2 separate regions of the Homo sapiens genome follow, and region 1 is linked to region 2. Evidence: fine-mapped expression QTL. A gene starts in region 2. The other region holds a variant in brackets. All regions are shown on one strand. Distances are between the middles of the regions.

Region 1 (11,096 bases), 130 kb before region 2:
ATGCCTTTGGAGTCTGCCATACTGTTGGCATAATCTGGAAATGCCTTGAATTTTTAACTTCTGCTGGTGCTTCTATTGCCAATGGGCATATAATTGTTGATCTATTACAGGCTATTTTCCTCCCTACTAAAATTACTGTTGCTTATTGTTCAGCCCATACTAAGGAGTCTGGTATTGTATCTCTTGGGAACAATAGGGCTGACAAGGCTGCTAAATACACAGCCAAAAATGTGCCACCTTTTTTTTTTTATATCTAGTTTCTAAACCTGCCTTTATCTCTAGCTGATACTATTGATTATCAGGCAGATGCTCCATGATCTGAAAAGACAAATGGATACAAAAGCATTCAAAACAATGATCAGATGGATTATACATTGGGCCAAAAGGATTTCCTATGGCCCCCATTCTTTCAGCCTTTTGGCTTGCACTTGTCTCCCATCAAATGGGATGTATGTGCAGATGGAGGATAGTTAAGGACCCAAAAGATAAATGGGCACCAGGTGTGGTGGCTCATGCCTGTAATCCCCGCACTTTGGGAGGCCGAGGTGGGTGGATCACCTGAGGTAAGGAGTTCGAGACCAGCCTGGCCAACATGGTAAAACCCCATCTCTATTAAAAATGCAAAAAATTAGCTGAGAATGGTGGCGGGCACCTGTAATCTCAGCTACTTGGGACGCTGAGGCAGGAGAATTGCTTGAACCGGGAGGCGGAGGTTGCAGTGAGCCAAGATTGTGCCATTGCACTCCAGCCTGGGCAACAACAGCGAAACTCCGTCTCCAAAAAAAAAAAAAAAATTATAATTGGTTCTGCCCTGGCACCCACAAAATTTCTGACCGAATTATTTCCCAGCATACTGCTTGTAAATCTCACCAAATTTCTGTAGGAAACCAATATTCCTCAGGAAGTCCTTGAGGCCTACATTGCCTCTTGTGGCACTCCAAGTGGATTTCATAGATTTACCTCCAGCTTTAGGCTATTCTCACTGTTTGCTTATTGTTTCTATGTTTAGTGGATAGACTGAACGCCATCTGACTAGACGTGCTGATGCCACGACAGTGGTGAATAAATGAATAAGATTATTCTTTGTTTTGGCATTCCTTTATGAATTGAGTCAGACCAAGGAATTCATTTTATAGCAGAAATAAACCACTTGCTTGCAAAAACTTTGGGATACTCATTAAAATTTCATACCCTGATCATCCCTTATCCTCAGGGCAAGTGGAACAGAAAAAGCTAGACATAAAAAGGACTTTGGGGAAAGAAGCATTGGAGGGACTGGGTTGTTTTCACTGCCCTAGTGAGCATGAGCTTGTGTGTGGTGTGGGGAGGGCTTTAGGAGCTGAGGCAGCTGGTGCTTGGTGGGGGTGGGGGAACCACAGTCCACCAGAAAAAGCAGATAAAGTATAAGTTCCCCCACATCTTTAAAAAAAGATTTTATTTAAAAATTTTTTAGAGATAGGGTCTTGCTCTGTCACCCGGGCTGGAGTGCAGTGGTGTGACTTTGACCTCCTGGGCTCAAATGATCCTCCTACCTCAGCCTCCCAATAATTAGGACTACAGGCACGTACCACCACACCCAGCTAATTATTTTGTTTTTTATACAGATGGGGGTCTTGTTATGTTGCCCAGGCTGGTCATGAACTCTTGCTGCCTCGGCCTCCCAAACTGTTGGGATTACATGCCCATGTGAGCCACCATGCACAGTCTCCCACGCTTACTTAATCAAGTCTTCAAGTAACAGAAGCCTCACCTTCATATGGAGACAAGTGGTGAGTTACTGGCCCATCTGAATGACTTACTGTTTGTTCATTGATTAGCAGAAGAGTCCAGGACAAATGCCTGTGAGAATAAATGTGGAGTCATCAAAAAGGAGCATGTACCGGCTGCAGCACAGGGAATTCTACAGAACAGAGGCTCAAAATCAACACATTCTTGAAAATTGTATGATGCATTATCTTAGATGGTAACAGGTTGTAAAAGCACTTTTTATGAATCAGCTAATATTGTGGATTATTAAAATATTGGCTAGGTAGAAACAAAAAATTTTAGGAAAATTCTATCAAGAGACTGCACTGAAATGGCCAGAAGCGTTCCCCTAAATACATAAAACCTGTAATACTTGAAATAGAAGGCATGAATTTACCCCTTTGGAAACAATACTTGGTTGTTCTATGCCTACTGGTATCTCTAAGCCTTCTATTCTTGAATTGAGTGAACCATTATGGAGACTTAAGTGAACAATTCGATGCTATGACTAGTTATATACAGGAACTGACAAGTATACTTGGAGCATATCAACAGGTAAAAATGACACAGCCAGCCTCTGCCAACTGACAATGCTTGCCATCTCTTTTGACGAGGAGATCTATGTACATCAAGGTTTTTAGAAGACATTACCTAGCTAGGAAGGACCTTATGAAGTACTGCTAACAACTTATGCCGCTATCTAAATAAAATAAAAATCCTCATGGATTCCTGCAAGCCATGCTAAGCTAGGTCAGCACTCTTAGGACAATTGAGAGACCCCAGATCAGCACTCTCAGGACAATTTGGAAGACCATCCCTGCAAGTGACCTTAAAGTAAGGATTTCCAGGGTTAATCCCCAGGCTCAGGAAGCAGACAGCATCATGAAGTAGACAATTTTTTCCCAAGGTCATTAAGAAACTTCACTTCCACCGATTTTCTCCCCCATTATGTCTCCTTACTCCAAAACAAAAACAAAAATACCTCTTCCTTTTAATGAAGACTCCTTTTCTTTGGCCATTTATTTAAAGGCTGACTGGAGATTGCGCGTCTCTATCTATCCTGTTTTCACTCTGACTCTCCGCTATGGGCTCTCTTCCAAACTCTATTATGCTTTTATAAACTCTTCCAGTTTTCTCAATAGGCCAAGCAGAAACCTGACATCCTCCTACACCAGTTTCCCAAACCCTGGCATATTAGTTAATCAGATTGCTGTCTATGTCCAACATCTAGATCACACAAAAGAACCTGAACTAGGCCAGGCACGATGGCTCATGCCTGTAATCCCAGCACTTTGGGAAGCCAAGGTGGGCGGATGACTTGAGGCCAGGAGTTCGAGACCAGCCTGGCCAACATGGTGAAACCCTGTCTCTACTAAAAATACAAAAATTAGCTGCCGTGGTGATGCATGCCTGTGATCCCAGCTGCTTGGGAGGCTGAGGCAGGAGAATCGCTTGAACCCAGGAGGCAGAGGTTGCAGCGAGCCAAGATTGAGGCACTGTACTTCAGCCTGGATGACAGAGCAAGACTCCGTCTCAAAAAAAAAAAAAAAAAAACCTGAACTAATTTTAATTCCTGCCAAGGAATGACAGGTACTTGCAAAAAGCTGGTAGACCAAGACTGGAAAATAGATCTATGACAAGATACGGCATTTATCACCAAGAAAACAATGTCACTCTACTTCTCCTCTTGGTGAGTTACTTGGATATGGAAAAACTTTCAGGGAAGCTCAAGGACTGTCCTTTGCTCAGGTAAAGCCATTAGAAGGGAATTTTCCCCTTTGTCTTGAAAACAGGAGTGGTACTGGGCCTTTCCTGTGTGACATACCAAGGCAAGACATACCCTGTGGTTTGATTTCACAGGCAGCATCCTCAAGCCTCTTATGAAGGTCATAAATGGTCCTGACACTGACTCTTACGGTACAAACACTTGTCAAATTACCAGATGTTACAGCTGAACCACAAGCCACCCTTGTGTAACCTGGGGTAGCTCATCTGCTTTCCACATTAGGCTGCCAAGCAAGCTGGTGACCCATGAAAGCTGGTTGGTGGCATAGTTTGAAGACCTGAGAGCCACAGAGCCAATGGTGTGTATTCCACTGTGGATCTAAAGACCTGGGAACCAGGCGTACTGAGGGCAGGAGAAGATAAATGCCTCAGCTCAAGCAGTCAGGCAGAGGGAGTGAATCCTTGTTTTCTCTACTCAGGCCCTCAATGGATTGGATGGTGCACATTCACATTGCGGAGAATAATTTCCTTTACTCAGTCTGTCAATTCAAATGCAAATCTCTTCTGGAAATACCCTCATAGGCACACCCCAGAAGTCATATTTAACCAGATATTTGGGCATTCCATGATCAAGTCAAGGTGACACATCAAATTAACTGTCACAGGATCTGACAAAACTTTTCTTAATATCTCTTATTTAAGTGGCAGGATGGAGGTCTGTGTACTGGGTTATTCAGCAATTAAGAGGACCATAGCTGGTTGGTTAGCCATTTCCTTAAGATTAATGTATGTTCTTTAAATCAGAGGAAAGCCTGGTTACAATGATTGCTTCTGACCCTATCCTGTGCAATTCTTTAAGTCTGGAGAAGCACAAAAGACTATCTAAAAAAGTGTGTAGCAGCAGAAACCTGGAAATGTAAGCTCACTGGATGGCAAAATCACTGGATTCTCAACTGATGAGCCCAAATTAACAAAGTGAAAATTTAAATATTATATATATA[C/CAT]ATATATATATATATATATATATTTTTTTTTTTTTTGAGACAGGATCTTGCTCTGTTGCCCAGGCTGGAGTGCAGTGGCAAGACCTCTGCTCAGTGCAGCCTCAACTTTCCGGGCTCAGGTGATCCTCCCACCTCAGCCTCCCGAGTAGCTGGGATTACAGGTGTGTGCCACCATACCTGGCTAAGTTTTTAATTTTTTTTTTTAGAGATGGGGATTTGCCATGTTGCTCAGGCTTGTCTCAAACTCCTGGGCTCAAGTGATCCACCTGCCTTGGCCTCCCAAAGTGCTGGGATTATGGCATGAGCCATTGTGCCTGGCATATAATAGATATTCATAATTCAGGTGGTCCAGCATCCAAACCCTTTTATTTATTTATTTATTTATTTATTTATGTATTTATTTAGAGACAGAGTCTTGCTATGTCACTCAGGATGGAGTGCAGTGGTGCGATCACAGCCCACTATAGCCTTGATCTCCTAGGCTCAAGTGATCCTCCTACCTCAGCCTCCTGAGTAGCTCGAACTACTTGTGTGTACCACCACTCTTGCCTTTTTTCTTTGTAGAGACTAGGTCTCACTGTGTTGCCCAGGTTGATCTTGAACTCTTGGACTCAAGTGATCCTCCTGCCTTGGCCTCTCAAAGTGCTGGGATTACAGGTTTGAGCCACTGTGCCCAGCCTAAACTCACTTTATATGTGCATGTATTACTTGCAAATTATTCTAGCTTCTATGTGGAATGTTGAGAATTTAAATACTTGAGGATATTTTGCATTTGTGAGAAATAAAAATATTGAAGGTAATTAAATCCTTTTGTTAGCCTGTATGAGGTTGGTGCAAAAGTAATCGCAGTTTTTGCCATTGAAGGTAATGGCAAAAACCGCAATAACTTCTGCACCAATCTAATACATAAACTGGTTCTACAACTCCCAGGATCCATTGGCATCAAGAATTGAGAGAAGTTGTGGGGAAATGGAGGCCTTCTTACCTTTAACTCTCCTTGGCACAGCACAAAGGACCAAGGCTTCTCCCTGGGAAATACAATCTGGGTACTCAGTACTGGCAGGATTTAGAGTCAAACAAGAGCTTCATTCAGGCTAATGAGAGTTGGTACAAGTAATATTGCTGTAAGGATTCTTCTGACTACTGAGCATGCATATTAACCAGCTTAACTTTTGTTCCTTGTTTTTGCAGTTACAGCAAGTGATCTGGTTTAAGCCATCTTCCCTACTCCTTTTCCTGTTTTGTGACACGTATTTCTGTAGGCTGATTGAGCTGCACCAATAGAACAGGCTGTGAACTCCTAAGGTGGGAGTAGGGAGGTGGAAGGAGAGAGGCTTGGCTTCTTGAGTTTTCTGTATCACCTCGGACAATTGCAAGCACATAGGAAATTACTGTTGGATTGAATTGAACCAAACTGGAATGGAACTAACTGACCCGTAAGATGAAAACCACATACAAACAAGGAATGCTTGTGTTGGGGTTCAGAAAAAGATCCCTAAAATATGATACTTTGACATGCTGAACTAAAGAAGAAGCCTCAAGGTCTCTCTGACCTCCCTGCCCGCTTCTCTTTCAATACTCTCTCTCTCCCAAAGCACAGGATGTAGCTGTTCTTGGAAGTTCCCTTATCTACCTAGAAACTGGACCCATGAAAGAGAAACACAACTGTCTTTGATCCCCTCCCTGAAATTTCATAAACCAGAGATTAAAACTCGTATCACCAAGGAAGAGGCTGAAAATTAAACACCACATCTAGAGCTCAGCTGAACTTTTTTCCAAACTATTTTCTGTTCTCTGGCTCCATTAAATTCCCCCAAATAATTATTTGATAGTCATTGTCTGAGCATTGGACCCATTCATTTCCCCTAAAAATAATTTATTACCTGCTATAGTTTGGATATTTGACCCTCCAAATTTCATGTTGAATTTTTTTTTTTTGACAGAGTCTCACTTGCTGCTCAGGCTGGACTGCAGTGGCACGATCTTGGCTCACTGCAACCTCCACCTCCCAGGTTTGAGCAATTCTCTTGCCTCAGCCTCCTGAGTAGCTGGGACTACAGGCGCACACCACCATGCCCAGCTAATTTTTGTATTTTTAGTATGGACAGGGTTTCACCATGTTGGCCAGGCTGGTCTCGAACTCCTGACCTCAGGTGATCTGCCCGCCTTGGCCTCCCAAAGTGCTGGGATTACAGGCATGAGCCACCGTGCCTGAACTTCATGTTGAAATTTTATCCCCAATGTTGGAGGTAGGGTTTAATGGGAGGTGTCTGGGTCATGGGATGGATCCCTCATGAATGTCTTGGTGCTGTCCTTGAGGTAATGAGTGAGTTCTCGCTCTATTAGCCCTCAAGAGAGTTTCCCCAAGAGCTAGTCGTTCAAAAGAGCCTGGCATCTCCCTCCCATCTCCCTTGCTTTCTCTCTCATCATATGATCTCTGCACACTGGTTTTCCTTTGCCTTTCACCGTGAATGGAAGCAGCCTGAGGCCCTCACCAGAAGCTGAGCAGGTACCAGTGACATGCTTCTTGTACACCCTGCAGAACTGTAAGCCAAATAAACCTCTTTTCTTTGTAAATCACTCAGCCTTGGGTATTCCTTTATAGCAACACAAATGGACTAAGACACTACCCCTCAGAATGGCCATATTTTCCCCATCTCCTTTTCCCCCATGAAGGAGAGTATATAAGCATATGGACCTCATTGGGTTATTAATCATTCTCCTGCAATTCCCCTGTGCTTATGCATATTAAATAAACATGTATACCTTTTTCTCCGAATAATCTGCTTATTGTCATTCATTTTCAGTGAACCTTTAGAGGGTAAAGGGGAAACTTTCCCTTGGTCTCTACACTTGCTAGATATCTAAACAATTAAATTAATAGATAAAGCAACTTTGGACAGGGAGAGAAACTGGAAATGTGTTTTTCCTTGATCTTCACATTATAGCCTGAACTATTGTATAATAATTTATTAAGAATTAAGGGATGCCAGGCGCTGTGGCTCATGCCTATAATCTCACCACTTTGGGAGGCCGAGGCTGGTGGATCGCCTGAGGTCAGGAGTTTGAGACTAGCTTGGCCAACATGGTGAAACCCTGTCTCTACTAAAAATACAAACAATAAGATGTCAGCTGAAGCACCTTTTCCTTTGAAATTCAAAGAAAATTAGCTTGAACTCGTGTCCCTCCTCAGGAAAATCTGGGTGATTTATGCATTTTCCAGTTACCTCAGTATTTGGAGAATTAATTTTATTTATATTTATTTTAGAGATAGAGTCTCACTATGTTCCCCAGGCTGGACTTAAGATCCTGGGCTCAAGCAATCTTCTTGCCTCAGCCTCCCAAGTAGGTGGGACTACAGGTGTGTGCCACTGTGCCTCCCCACGTGCTGTTACTCTCCTGTATTGCTTTGTCCCAACTGAGGACTCTCAGCCTTTCCGCCCTTAACCCCCTCAAAACAATAATACTCACACAAGGCATTTGTGTATGAAACTAACTTTACTAAAGGCTGCTTGGTTTCCCTCTCCCTTTTCACAGCTTTTTACTTTTTCTTTTCACATGCTCCTATCTTAAACTTACCTGCTTCTATGATTCTCTGCCCTTCACTTTACTTCCTTCTTTATACGCAGAACTATTTTTAAGTTTGAGGTACATGTGCAGGTTTGTTACATAGGTAAACCTGTGTCATGTGGGTTTGTTGATACAGATTATTTCATCACCCAGGTATTAAACCCAGTTCCCATTAGTTATTTCTCCTGATCCTCTCCCTCCTCCAACCCTCACCCTCCACCCTCTGCTAGGCCTCAGTGTGTTGTTCCTCTGTGTGTGTCCATATGTTCTCATCATTTAGCTCCCACTTATGAGAACATGTTGTATTTGGTTTTTCTGTTCCTGCACTAGTTTGCTAAGGATAATGGTCTCTAGCTCCATTCATGTCCCTGCAAAGGACGTGATCTCATTCTTTTTATGGCTGCATAGTATTCCATGGTGTATATGTACTACATTTTCTTTATCCAGTCTATCATTGATGGGCATTTAGGTTGATTCCACATCTTTGCTATTGTGAACAGTGCTGCAATGAACAGACACATATATGTGTCTTCATGATGGAATGATTTATATTCCTTTGGGTATACATCCAGTAATGGAACTGCTCGGCCAAATGGTAGTTCTGTCTTTAGGTCTTTGAGGAATCACCACGCTGTCTTCCAAAATGGGTGAACTAATTTACACCCCCACCAACAGTGTATAAGCATTCCTTTTTCTCCACAACCTCACCAGCATGTTATTTTTTGACTTTTTAATAATAGCCAGTACAGAACTATTTTGATTCTTCTTTTCCAGACCGGCCCTGTCCTATCCCAAAACTCATTAGTGTGTTTTCCAAAACAATGGCTCATCTAAGGAATATGAACCTTGAGCTATAAGGAGAATTGCAGTCAAAGGCCTTTCTTTTCAGCCTTTCTGAAGAAGAGCATGGGGACAGATAGTTAAATCATCCTACTTTTAAAGATTGATCCTTTATTCCTCTAATTCTGAGTAAGGCATTTCTTTCCTAATCTCACATCCTACAATCTCCTATCTGCCTCTGGGATAGTAATCATATTAATATTGCTCAATACTCTCAAAAGAATAAGGAACATTTAAGTTCCTTGGTATGTAGACTAGTATGTAAAGTTATCAGATTATGCCTGTTATTTCTGCTACTAATGTTTTTTGTTTCTTAAAAAATAAAACACACTTTTGAATAGGTAACTCATGCATACAATTAAAAATTCAAAAGGCATAACAAACTGCATATAGCTAAAAGCAAGCATACCTTCTACTCCTGTCCCTCAGTTATCTAATTCTCTTTTGCAGAGGTAACCACTAAGAGTAATTTCTGGTTTGATCTTTCAGAGGTATTATATCCTATGTCTTCCTGACTGCCTATAAATGGCATAAATTCTAAACACTCTACACTCTACATTCTATACATCCTGTTTTGCATTTGGGTTTTCACTTAACCACATAGCTTGGGGACTCTGCCATACCTGTACATATAGAACTGCCTTATCTTTAATTTCTTTAATCTATACACAATTCCACCTTATAGAGGTACCATAATTTCTTTAGCTAATCCCAATCAATGGAATTTATATTGCTTTTAATATTTTGCTGTCAGTAACAATTCTGTAACTAATTACTTTATATGTAAGTCATTTTTCAGGAGTGGTAATATTTGAAGGACAGATTTGTAGAAGCAGAATGGTTGGGTTAAAGGGTATGGGCATTTTCAGCTTTGATAGATATTGCCAAACTGCCCTCCAAAAATGTTGTACCTATTCACATTTCCACCAGCAAATGTTTGGGAGTAACTTTCCTTGTACCCTCACCAACAGAGCATGTTATAAAGCCCTTAGAACTTTGTCACTCTTATAGGTGAAAAGTGGTACCTCACTCATTTTTTTCTTAGGCTCTTCTTATAAATGATTTGAAATGCCTTTATCATATACTAAAATTGGCTATGTATCTGACATATTTCTGGGCTTCCTCATCTATTCTATTGGTCTCTCTTGTCTCTTCATACACTATTACTATAGTGTTTTGGTCACAATAGCATTATACTATGTTTTACTATCTAGTGGGCTAATTGTCCTCATTACTCTTCTTTCCCCCTTGGAAATTTCCTGAATATTCTTATTTTTTCTATACAATTTTAAGACACAGCTTGCCCAGTTCCAAAAAAGATCCTGTTGCATTTTTGAGATTGTATCATATGAACAGATTATTTCAGATACTATTACTCACTTGGTAAAGCTTACTGTTGAAGCTTACCATTTGTCCATATATTTTGAGTTACATCTTCCTTATGCTTATCACAACAGTGATGCCTTACATAAAATGTTATCTTATTAATTCTTTATAACCACCTTGGGAAACAGGTAGGGTAGTTAGAAGATTAGGCATTAGCTCAAGATTATATATGATAGACCATCCTAATCCAGTTTTATGTCTACTACATTGTAATACTTCCACAGAGATTTCATACAAATTAAAAAGACAAAACAGACTTTCCTACTAAGGGTTCTATTTTCCTATTGCAAAAAGCCAGCAATATGCAAGTACAATTCTGCAGTGTACTTCTTGTGTGACAATCTGTGGCCAAGCACTGTGGAATGCATTCCAATCAGGGATTAACAATCTCAAAAGAATGTTGAAACCAGAGTTGGCTTGAATGTTGTACAATGACACCAAGGATCTTGGCCCACTTCCCAGGTTTTCCCTTTTTGGTTTTCTAGCAAGTTCGATTATGCCTGGGAATTTGTGGAATATGGCACTTGGATCAGTGACTTCCTGAATATGACATTGAGATCAATGGCATTTGTCTGCCTGAAAGATTTTGGACTATGATTTTTAGATATATTGCAGTTATAAATAAGTTCTCTGTTGAAATGGTACTCAGGAAGCCTTGACACAGGGTGCAAAGAGGAAGAGGAGTTTGTGAATTGCTTATGGAAGGCAGAGATCTTGAAAGAAAGTTCTTTTGTGAATAGTGAGTTGCATACTTGGGCACACTGACATTTCAGCTGGAGGATCTTCAAGTCTTTAAAAAAAGATCGAGTGGATTAAAATCTATCTTTA
Region 2 (10,544 bases):
GCTGAATTATTCTAAGCTCATGAAATATCTCTAGAATGTTCCATATGCCTTCCCATCTGCTATTACTGAATGCTTTGGCCACTTTCTTGCCAATGTTCCTTACAGACATTCTTTCACCTCTGATGAGGTACTGAGTAATAACAAGAAATTGTGGGCACTCAACAACTGTGCACTGGTTAACCTTACTAACCTGTATGTGAACTAAAAATAAGGTGTATAGTTTTTGTGAGACCCACATATAGTTAACACCTAGTACAATGTGCCAACCACTGTAATAAGGATGTTACATATAATAATCCTCAAAACAAGTCTATGAAGTGAGTACAAACAGGAAGAACACTGCAAACAAGAGAGTTCACTTAACCATTACTCAGCAATGATTAGTTTTTATCTAAAATGTCCACATGCAGCCAGGAGAATATCTAAACATACAATAAAACAAAAATGTTTACTACGATATTTTTTCATATGTAATAATATTGCTCCTCATTAATAGAAGACAAATTCTGTTCTCCTTTCTGATTCATGTACCCCAAATTAGTTCAAATTTTATCTGCTAGTCAAGTTCAAAAGGAAGAATAAAATAAAATCTTTCTTTTAGAATAGGTATAGCTAACTTGTTGGCCTTGACACCCAGATGCAGTGGGCTAAATTAGGCCACAAAAATCTAAATGGCCAATGGATTCATACCACCATTCTACATAGGAACTTACTGGACATTTTTTTTCAAACACTTTTATTACCACTAACCAGACAGTTTCCAAAACAGCTAAAAAGGAAAAGTAAAATGGGGGCAAGGTCAAAAGCTGCAACGTATAGTATGAGTTTTTCTATTTGAAGAAAGGCTGAAGAACCCATACGGGGACTGGACCCTCCTAGAAAGTGTGAAAACTTACACACAGAGACTTAAGAAACCAATTAAAGTTATATGAGATTTTGTGAGAAATGGCAAATTACAGGATAGACAAAAAGCACTACTGTGTTTTTATTATAGCTTATACAAGGGCTTGGACATCCACAGGATTGTATCTTGTAGAGAACTATTTAGAAAATGCTAAAATATAGATAAAAATAGGTGTTGCTCTTATGCTAGTTATAAGCTATAATTGGCCTAATGGCTATTTGCTTTAGGAAAGAAGGTTGGAGAAAGGGAAGTCCACATTACCTTTAGGTTAACTTCTGTAGGCTCCCACCAGTTTTCACCTGATTTATGACACTAGCATTCTACTGATATTCTGCTTCCAACTCTCCAGCTCAACTTTTGCATTGTCATTAATCACATGTAAGTATAAAGAACCTTCTACTGTTTGGTTCCTCATTACTCGCAGGATAAAGGCCAAACTCCTTAGCACTGCATATCTACCCTGTCTCTTTTCCAGCTATTGTCCCAAATGCGCCATTCATGTGCAGGTGCTCCCTTCACAATCTCCATCCTGTCCCTGACCAAACACCATCCCTCACATACTTTGGTCTCTGTGGTTGGTCAAAGCCCAAACCCACCTCATGTGTCACAGTGCCTGCAGGTGTAGACCTCACTTCCTTAAAATGCCACGCAGTTTCAGACCTGTGTCCTTGTGTATGTGCCCCATCTAGCTGGAATGCCCTTCCCTCTATTTCTCTGCTTCATTAAATTCATCCTGTAAGACTCTGTCTTAAATTTTCTGGGACGCTTTCCTGATACCCTCACCCTTGGATGGGTCAGAAGCTCTTTGCATACTGCACTGTATTCCCCCACTAGACTAATGAATGAACTGCTTCATCACTTTCTAGCTAAGTGGCCTTGGACAAGTTCATTAATTTCGCTGAGCCCATTTCTTCATGTATATAATGTTGGTATTAATTTGCTATCACTGTAAAATAATCAATGTCAAAAATCACTTTGTAAACAGTGAAGTACCACGCAGGCATTAACAATTTTATCAAAAACCAAGAGAGCACACAGTATTCTTGGTGAATATACTTCAGTTTAATCTAAGGGTAAGATTCATCTCTTGGTTTCCGTCCCCTCTCCAAGGATACCCTGTATTTTTATCCAACTTTCTGACTCCACTAAGTCTTGGTACTTCTATCTTCAGGAAAAAAAATCTATGATTATGTTTAAGTCATTTGAAGGAAACACCGAGTGGGAAGCTCTGAAAGGGTAAGGATTTTCCTTTTCCCCATCTTTCTTAATGCCTTCACAAGAGTACCGTTATGCACATATAAATATTCTGAATATGAAAGAACTGAATGAATATAAACATACCCTGCCTTTAGTGAGTATATAATCTAAAAAAGTGAATGATGTAACAGATCTCACTAAATCTGACCTTATAAAAATGGTAATGAATGCCTTTAGTATCATCTTAATGTGCAGTAAGAAATTAAATTTCCTGCTATTATTTTATTTGGTGATTTGACACATGTTGGAATTGCTATCTTAGTAAGTCATGCTTAACATATGAATGTTTTAACATTATCAGAATCACTGATGCAATTCAATACCTAGTTATTGAATATATATTGCACTAGGCCCTATCAGAGTACAAAGATAAAGGTGACGGGCTCTGCCGATGGTAAGGTCCTAACATACAGAAAGGAAGCTGTCATCAATCCATCTAATAGAGGGCAGAGTGTTGTATGGAGGATCTAAAGGTTGTCACAATCAATGAAGACATCTAAGTTAGGGCATTGGGCCCACGAAAATTAAAAGTGTATATTACATATTATAATACTGGTGGTCAGTAACTTCTGTGACTATTGAATATCTCCTATATATTACATACGTAATATTTGCTGCATGCACTGGCAGATATTTACGGTCACCTTCCTCCTATTCTAACTATAAACCCGTCTGTGTTGTTGTCTAATAAATACTGTTAACACTCATATCACACGTAAGTACCAACCATAGTTCCAAGCCCTTGAAGTATATTTTCTAATTTACTTTCACAACAATCCCGTGAGGTAGGTACAATTTCTCCCCTTTTACAAATGAGGAAGACGAGGCATAGAAATGGTAATTTTTCAAGGTTAAGATGCAAACACAAAAATATGTAAATGAGGACCTAAGAGACAGAATCCAGTATTCCACCGAGGGAGCGGAGCCACTTGCCAGAGCTGCTTCACGCAGTGCTTTCCACCTCTCCGAACACACCCAGTGGGAACAACCTATCTCCTTTCCCTCCAGGGATTCTTTTACTTTTCCTGAACCCATAACTAAGCTGTTGATTCTCGAGCAGATCCTCTCAAACCTTCCTACTCCAGAAGACGTGCCGCTATTTAAATCATAGGCTGTTTAGGGTAAATGAGACAGAACCAGATCCCCAGGTGGACAAAGCTGGTAGGATCACGAAATTAAACCTCGGGCTGCGGATCCGGTCCTGGATCACTTCCAGGGGATGGCAGCAGCACCCGGCTCACCCAGGAGGCGCTACCCCCGAAGGTATCCAGTCCTCCTGACCCCAGGCAGCTTGGGTTTTGCCATCTGCTCGTTTACCCTTCAGCTGCCGACGCTCCCTGCTCAATCTCCATCCTGCCCCAGCCAAACGCCAGGCCTCACGCGCCTCCCTCTTCGCGGCGACCAGTCCCAAACCCACACCGGTGCGCATCGGCCCATGCAGGGGCAGCCCGTCCTGCCCTAACCCCGGCCCGCTACTCACGGTTCCAGTACACCGGGTAGCACTCTCCTTGGGTCACATCCACCTCGTAGAGGCCGCCCCGCACGCACACAGGCTCGATGTTCACAAGCTCCACCATCTCCGGCTCGTGCCCCGTCGTACTCTGGCAGAAGCCGCAGGCGCGGTCCTCATCGTCATCTTCTCCGGAACTGGAGGCTGGGCCCGTGGGGGAGCACACATGGTCGCCGTCCCGGTCCCCGCCCTGGGGCCGGGCACCCGTGGTCTGCAGCAGGGTCCGGAAGGCGAGCTCGATGCGGAGCGAGTCGTAGCCGATGAAGGGCTTCCAGGTCTTCTTGTCCTCCTTGTAGAACCAGCGTACCTCCTCCGGGCCCAGCTCCGTCACTACCTCATAGCGGTGCCGGGCCGCCGGGCCGCCAAGCCGGGTACGTTTCCTTTCCCCGGGGGACCCTCCTGTCGCGCCGCCGCCCCCCGAGTTCGTCGGGACCAGCGGAGGCTGCTGCGGCGGGTGCAGCGACAAGGAGCTGCCGCCGCCGCCGCTCTCACCCTCGCTGTAGTAGCGCAGCGAGGAGCCCGACTCGGCGGAGCTGAAGTCATAGTTCTCGTCACTGAGGCAGGGGTCCAGCGCGAGGTGGTGGTTGTGGTCGTCGGTGCCCGGCGCCAAATGCAGCCCGGGTTCCCCGCGCAGCAGGGCCAGGGGCACGTCGCCGTCGTCCGGGTCCCCGCCGGGCAGGTGCTCGAAGCAGCAGACGCCGCCGCCGAACGCTGGCCTCGCGTCTGAGCCCAGCTCCCAGGCGCCGCCGCCGCCGCCTCGGCCGTTATGCTCGGGGCTCCGTGGGGACCCGCGGCCCGGGTAATTCATGCTGTGGAGACGCCGCCGGCTGTCCGGCGGCGCGCGGAGCCGTGACCCCCAGCGCTTCCGCCACACATTCAACGCCGCCGCCCTCTCCACCCGAAGTTTCTAATCTTTCAAATCCCGACCCGAGCTGCGGCGGCAGCGGCGACCGCTCCGCCCCCACGAGACCCGCAGCCGCCGCAGCTGCGTTCTGCCGCCGGCCCCATTGTCACGCAGCCCGACGTAGGCGGTGCTTCGGCCCCCGCCCCGCCCCCCGGCCGCGTGCGCCGCCCCGGAAGCCCGGGCTGCACCGGCGCCGCGCGCGGGGTTCCCCCCTGCCCCTCTGGCTGGGAGGGCAGGGTGGTGTCAGGTCGCCCGCCGCTCTTGGGCCTCCTCGGCTCCCTTCCTCCTTCCTTGCGGTCTTCATGCACAGCTGCCTCGGTCCCCCGCTTCTGGAATTCACAGCCCAGATGTGGATAGGCTTTACCCCACTCATCCTTACAATGTGGGTCATGAGCCCAGAGCCTTAAGCTACGTGTTAGGAGGGCCCCAGGATGTAGGATTCAGCATTGCTCTTTTTGACCTTAGGCCCTACTGCGGCCTCGCCTGGACGTTTTGTCACCTGGCCCTGGTGCCTCCAGACAGAACCAGGACGCATAGGTGGGTGGATACGAGGGCACTCCACCCCACACCCATCACTCACCTTGGTGTCACCACTCCCACTGGGAAACTGGAATCTAAACCTTGCTTCATATGCCATCTCATATTATTACTTATCTTTTGATGCTTGGATTTCCTGTTTTCTCAACCTCATTGCTAGGCCCTTGATGGAAACCAAGTCCATGTCAGCCTCTCCCACACAGTGGGTGCGCAATCAGTCTTAGTTGATTATAATGATGTCAAGTCCAACCAGCTGTGGTAAAGAGTGTTCGATTGAGAGGTAGAAAACAACCAGGTTCTAGATTTAGCTTTGCTAACCATCCACAGGCAAATCACATAATCTTCCTGATCTTTTTGGTTTCCTCATCTGTAAAATTAAGATTCTTGGACCAGATGATATCTAAAGTTCCTTCTAGCAATGGAATTCTATGAACTTTAAGGTTTCTTCCAGATTTTTATGCATCTCTGATTCTGTAACTCATATTCTGGGATCAAGTTGAATACAGAGGCTCCCTTATGTGGGTCTTTTTTATTTAAAAAAAATTATTTTGTAAGCACATCACCCTATGTTGAGAATCCAGAGAAAAACCATCTCCAACCTCAGTGTTTTCATTTTAAGAATAGACAGTCTTCACTATTTCTTTTACTCTCTGGTGGAATCAGATTGGTAGGGCAATTTTTCTTGCTCCTGAGATGTAACCTGTCAGACATTATTACTCTGTCATTATTTAAATCAAGACTATCTGAAGTTTGTACAGGGCCTTTGTAGGAATTTGAAAAAAGGCATTGCTTCCTGTGGGCAGATACAGAGCGGTGTTGGAGTTGATGGCTTGTCAAGTAGAATACAGGCTGGATTTTCTGCCCCAATTAGTGCCCTTAGCTGGTTAACCTTGTGCAGTGAACAACCTATCCAACTGTATACTGCAGCTCTGACTGAAAGCATCTAAGATCAGGACCCTCTTTACCACTCAAAAAAAATTTCTGAGTGCCTGCTTCCCAGTTGCTCCTCCAGTATTTCTATTGACAATATGCAGCATATGATATTGGGTATGGGCTTTGGTCTGTTTACTAGCTGTAAAAGCATTCATTCTACAGGGTTTGAATAGGTGTCTGGCCACCTATATGCCAGGCACCTCTATGCTAACTTCTACTATAAGAGAGAATGGGAGAGAGTTCTTTCTTTCTTCAAGGAACTTACAGCCTAGAGGGGGATACAGACAAGTAAACAGATACATTATATTATAGTACAGTATGAAAAGTACTATGAAGGGGATTATAAATAAGGAATATCACAACATTTAAAATATCTCTATTCCTTTATGTTTCTTGATAGAATGTAGCCTAACTATATAACTATCTGGTCAGATTATTTTGGCCAGATTTTAACTCTTGACTACACAATTTCCGTTAACATTATCCTCTGTTAAAAAAAAAAAAAAAAAAAAAAAAAAAAAAAAAAAGAAGTACTAAGGCCGGGCGCGGTGGCTCACGCCTGTAATCCCCGCATTTTGGGAGGCCAAGGCGGGCAGATCACGAGGTCAGGAGATCGAGACCATCCTGGCTAACATGGTGAAATCCTGTCTCTACTAAAAAAAAATACAAAAAATTAGCTGGACGTGGTGGCGGGCACCTGTAGTCCCAGCCACTCGGGAGGCTGAGGCAGGAGAATGGCGTGAACCCGGGAGGCGGAGCTTGTAGTGAGCCGAGATCACGCCACTGCACTCCAGCCTGGGCTACAGAGCGAGACTCCGTCTTGGAAAAAAAAAAAAAGTACTTTCTGCTTTGCATTGAATGAATGTTTCTATTACTTTTAAGTGTGCTTATTTGGTTATTTTGAGAAGATTATCCTCTTGTGGTTCACTGGGGAAATGCCACACTCCTTTTAGGTAGAGTGATCATTTTTGAAGGAAATGTTGATTCTCAACACAACCCAGGTGGCAGAAGAAGGGAATCCTAGATTCTCTGCTGACCTGGTTATCTTGGTCTAGAGCCAGGTGTGTGTAATCTTTTGGCTTTCCTGGGCCACATCGGAAGAAGAAGAATTGTCTTGGGTCACACATAAAATACACTAACACTGATGATAGCTGATGAGCTTAAAAAATCACGAAAAAATCTCGTACTGTTTTAAGAAAGTTTATGAATTTGTGTTGGGCCACATTCAAAGCCATCCTGGGCTGCATATGGCCCATGGGCTGCAGGTTGGGCAAGCTTGGTCTAGACCTTGTTGAGGGGAGATGTCAATCAACATTTGTGGGCTGAGATTGCTTCTGCCCCTTGGAAGTGAGCTTGGGCTATGGCAGACCCATATACTGGGTCCCAGGCTGACAGTGCTCAGAAGATATTTGAGAGCACAATATCTAACTTCATGTGACTGCATGTGTTTATTTCCTTTTTACTCCCTAGCCATCATAGCAAGGCAAAGGTCATGATGTTGTTTTTCTCAACTTTTCTGCTTTAAAAAGTCATGTTTTATCTAATGCCTCCTGTTCCTGCTCTCCTTTTGTTTTCTAGATCATCTTCTCAGGTAATATGATCCTGACCAGAGGGAGATGGGTTGGGGCATCTATTCTAGTCCCCACCTGCCAGAATAGGTGTCAGGTGGCTCCTCACCACTCTACATCATTAGTGTGTACAATGGACACAGCATTATCTGAACTTCCATGGCTCTATGTAAAGCATTCCATTGTATTTTAATAATTACGCAAGACAAGGCCTCTTTCACATAAGGCAAATAAGTGTGATTGATTCAGACTTCTGGCATTACTGGGCCATGCTGCCGCAAGAAACAGGTGCATGTGGAATCAAGCCTGACGGAGTTATTGGTGTGCAGAAAAAAAAAAAGGTAAGCCAGTTGGTTTGTACTACAAAAGACTAAAACAGCTCGTCTGTGTATCCTACCACCTTCCTGTCCCCATTAGGCATATGGCAAGAGCTATCTGGTAACAACGGCCATCTCCTCCCGCGTCTCAAAGATGTTTTCGTGCAATTGTGTGCTGTCTTTCCCTTTTCTTCTTTTCTTAAAGTTTGTCCCTGTTATTCATTTTATTATTTTAGAGATAGGGTCTTGCTGTTGCCCGGGTGAAGTATAGTAGGCCAATCCTAGCTCACTGCAGCCTTGAACTCCTGGCCTCAAGTAATCCTCCTGCTGCAGCCTCCCCAGTAGCTAGTATTACAGGCACAAGCCACCATGTTGTTCATTTTAACCTGTCTTCACGTTTGTAACATTAGGGAATGCTTGATGCCAAGTAATTTATCCTGAGCCAACATCCCACACCTGCACTTGAAATAGCTTCATCCAAAGTGTATGATGGAAGACCCCTATTTAGAATGAAAGAAAGAGGGCAGACATAACCATGCCCCCATCTGCTGTATCTCGTGTTCGATAAGCCATCCACCACAACTTAAATTTTATTTCACTTTTTATTTTTAGGATTACTACTTATCTGGTTTTTAAAGATGAGAGTGTTTTATCTGATGCCCTGACCAAATGAAACAACAACCTAGACTGAAGCAGGGAACATTCGCTGGACATTTCAGGCACTGTGCTAGGCTCTACAGTGAAGCATTCACAGTCTAGTGGTGTCTATAAATAAAACCAAAATGCTAACTTTTAAATTCCTATGAGGAATATAATTGTAATGCCACTATAGCTGCATCACTACCATGGGGTCATTCTCTCCCTACAGACAGATCAATAAACAAAATCAAATTACAATCCAAAGGAAGCAAGGTGGGCAGAAATAACGTAGGGATTCATGATGAATAAAGTCATTAATCCTTCCATTTATTCATTCAACAAATATTTATTGTCTAGTGCTATTGTGTTTTTATTTTTAACTGAAATTACACTTAAAATTTAGAATTATGAAATGCATTTATTTAAAGATTTATAAGAGGCCTATCCACAAAACCATACTTACCAAAACCCTATAAAAATGTTTTCTATTCCTTTTGGAAATAAAGGTCAGTGGTGGTGAAGGTATATATTCAAATGAAAGAAAGTATAAATCAATACAACATTGATGCATACTCTGTGGAGGCAGCCACAAAATCCTCATCAGCTTGTTTATATCAGACAGATTTGGCCATCTTCCTGCCCTTTCATTATAGAAAAGTGAGTTGGGCCATAGCTATTGGCTGCTGTGAGGCCCACATTATGCACCCATTGTAGATGTATTTAATGACTTCTGCGCTCTAGGATTTTTTCCTACCTCCACAGGTAAGTTGAAAGTACATATTTGTTCACAGACTCATATGAGCCTTCAATAAAAAGTAATTGATAATCATAATATGGTGCTGAGCAAGACTTAGAGGCAGCACCTTGCGTATGTGTATTGTCATATATAAGTTAAAAAGGAAAGAAAAGAGAAGCTTTGTTCCAATAAGGATTTATTTCCACTAATGTAACTGTCAGTAATTTGCTGAGCATTTAAAAGACTGAACAGCAGAATTGATTTACTGTTTTTGCAACTGCTGCTTAAAAAAGTATGTTTATCCTTACATCATAAGTCAGCAACTCATTTAAAGTTTCAGCTTGAATAAAATATGATTCTAGGCCGGGTACGGTGGCTCACGCCTGTAATCCCAGCACTTTGGGAGGCCAAGGCGGGTGGATCACAAGGTCAGGAGTTCGAGACCAGCCTGCCCAACATGGTGAAACCCCATCTCTACTAAAAATACAAAATTAACTGGTCGCGGTGGTGCGTGCTTGTAATCCCAGCTGCTCGGGAGACTGAGGCAGGAGAATCACATGAACCCAGGAGGCAGAGGTTGCAGTGAGCCGAGATCATGCTACTGCACTCCAGCCTGGGCAACAAGAGCGAAACTCCATCTCAAAAAAAAAAAAAATATATATATATATATAATAATCATACATATAATAATCATTATATATACATATATATGATTCTAGACTCACAAGCTCCCAAATTCTTTTTGTGGGTCTCCCATTGGGTTACTTGAACCATACTAGATAGCCATTAGGATAATACCATTAATAAATGTAAATGGCATGGTAGAAAAGCAAAATTCTTCAGAAATTTTATCTTCAAGATTCAGCAACATATATTTTAAATATGAGAAATTAGTAACAATGGCCCTGCATTTGTGACTCCTTCACTTCTAAAGTTTAGAACATCAGATTCATACTAATTCTTAATCATCTGTAAGAACTCACAAATAGTCCTTCATTTGATTATTCATATTACTCTGCTTCTGAGGTTAACAATTATAAACTTTGATCACTCATATGACTGTACTTCTCAGGTTAGAAATTATAAACCTCTGGGCCAGGTGGATCATGCCTGTAATCCCAGCACTTTGGGAGGCTGAGGCAGGAGGATCACTGGAGCCTAGAAGTTCGTGACCAGCCTGGGCAACATGACAAAACCTTGTCTCTACCGAAAACAAAACAAAAAACAAAAACAAAAATT

Evidence for each region.
Region 1: its variant is fine-mapped to the expression of DDHD1 in prefrontal cortex (ROSMAP, PIP 0.95).

What each region holds. Positions count from the first base shown.
Region 1 is chr14:53,021,683-53,032,778 of GRCh38, forward strand. No RefSeq gene overlaps it. Among named protein-coding and RNA genes, the nearest start is that of FERMT2, 76 kb to the left of the region's middle. The variant C/CAT (reference allele first, on the strand shown) is at 4,473.
Region 2 is chr14:53,148,620-53,159,163 of GRCh38, forward strand. DDHD1 (DDHD domain containing 1) reads right to left here and starts at 4,704. Exons shown (of 13, transcript NM_001160148.2): 1 at 3,642-4,704. The coding sequence starts at 4,479. DDHD1-DT (DDHD1 divergent transcript) reads left to right here and starts at 4,735. Exons shown (of 3, transcript NR_110062.1): 1 at 4,735-5,112; 2 at 7,624-7,954; 3 at 8,543-8,909. RefSeq lists enhancers at 3,460-3,509, 3,530-3,729 and a silencer at 4,550-4,879.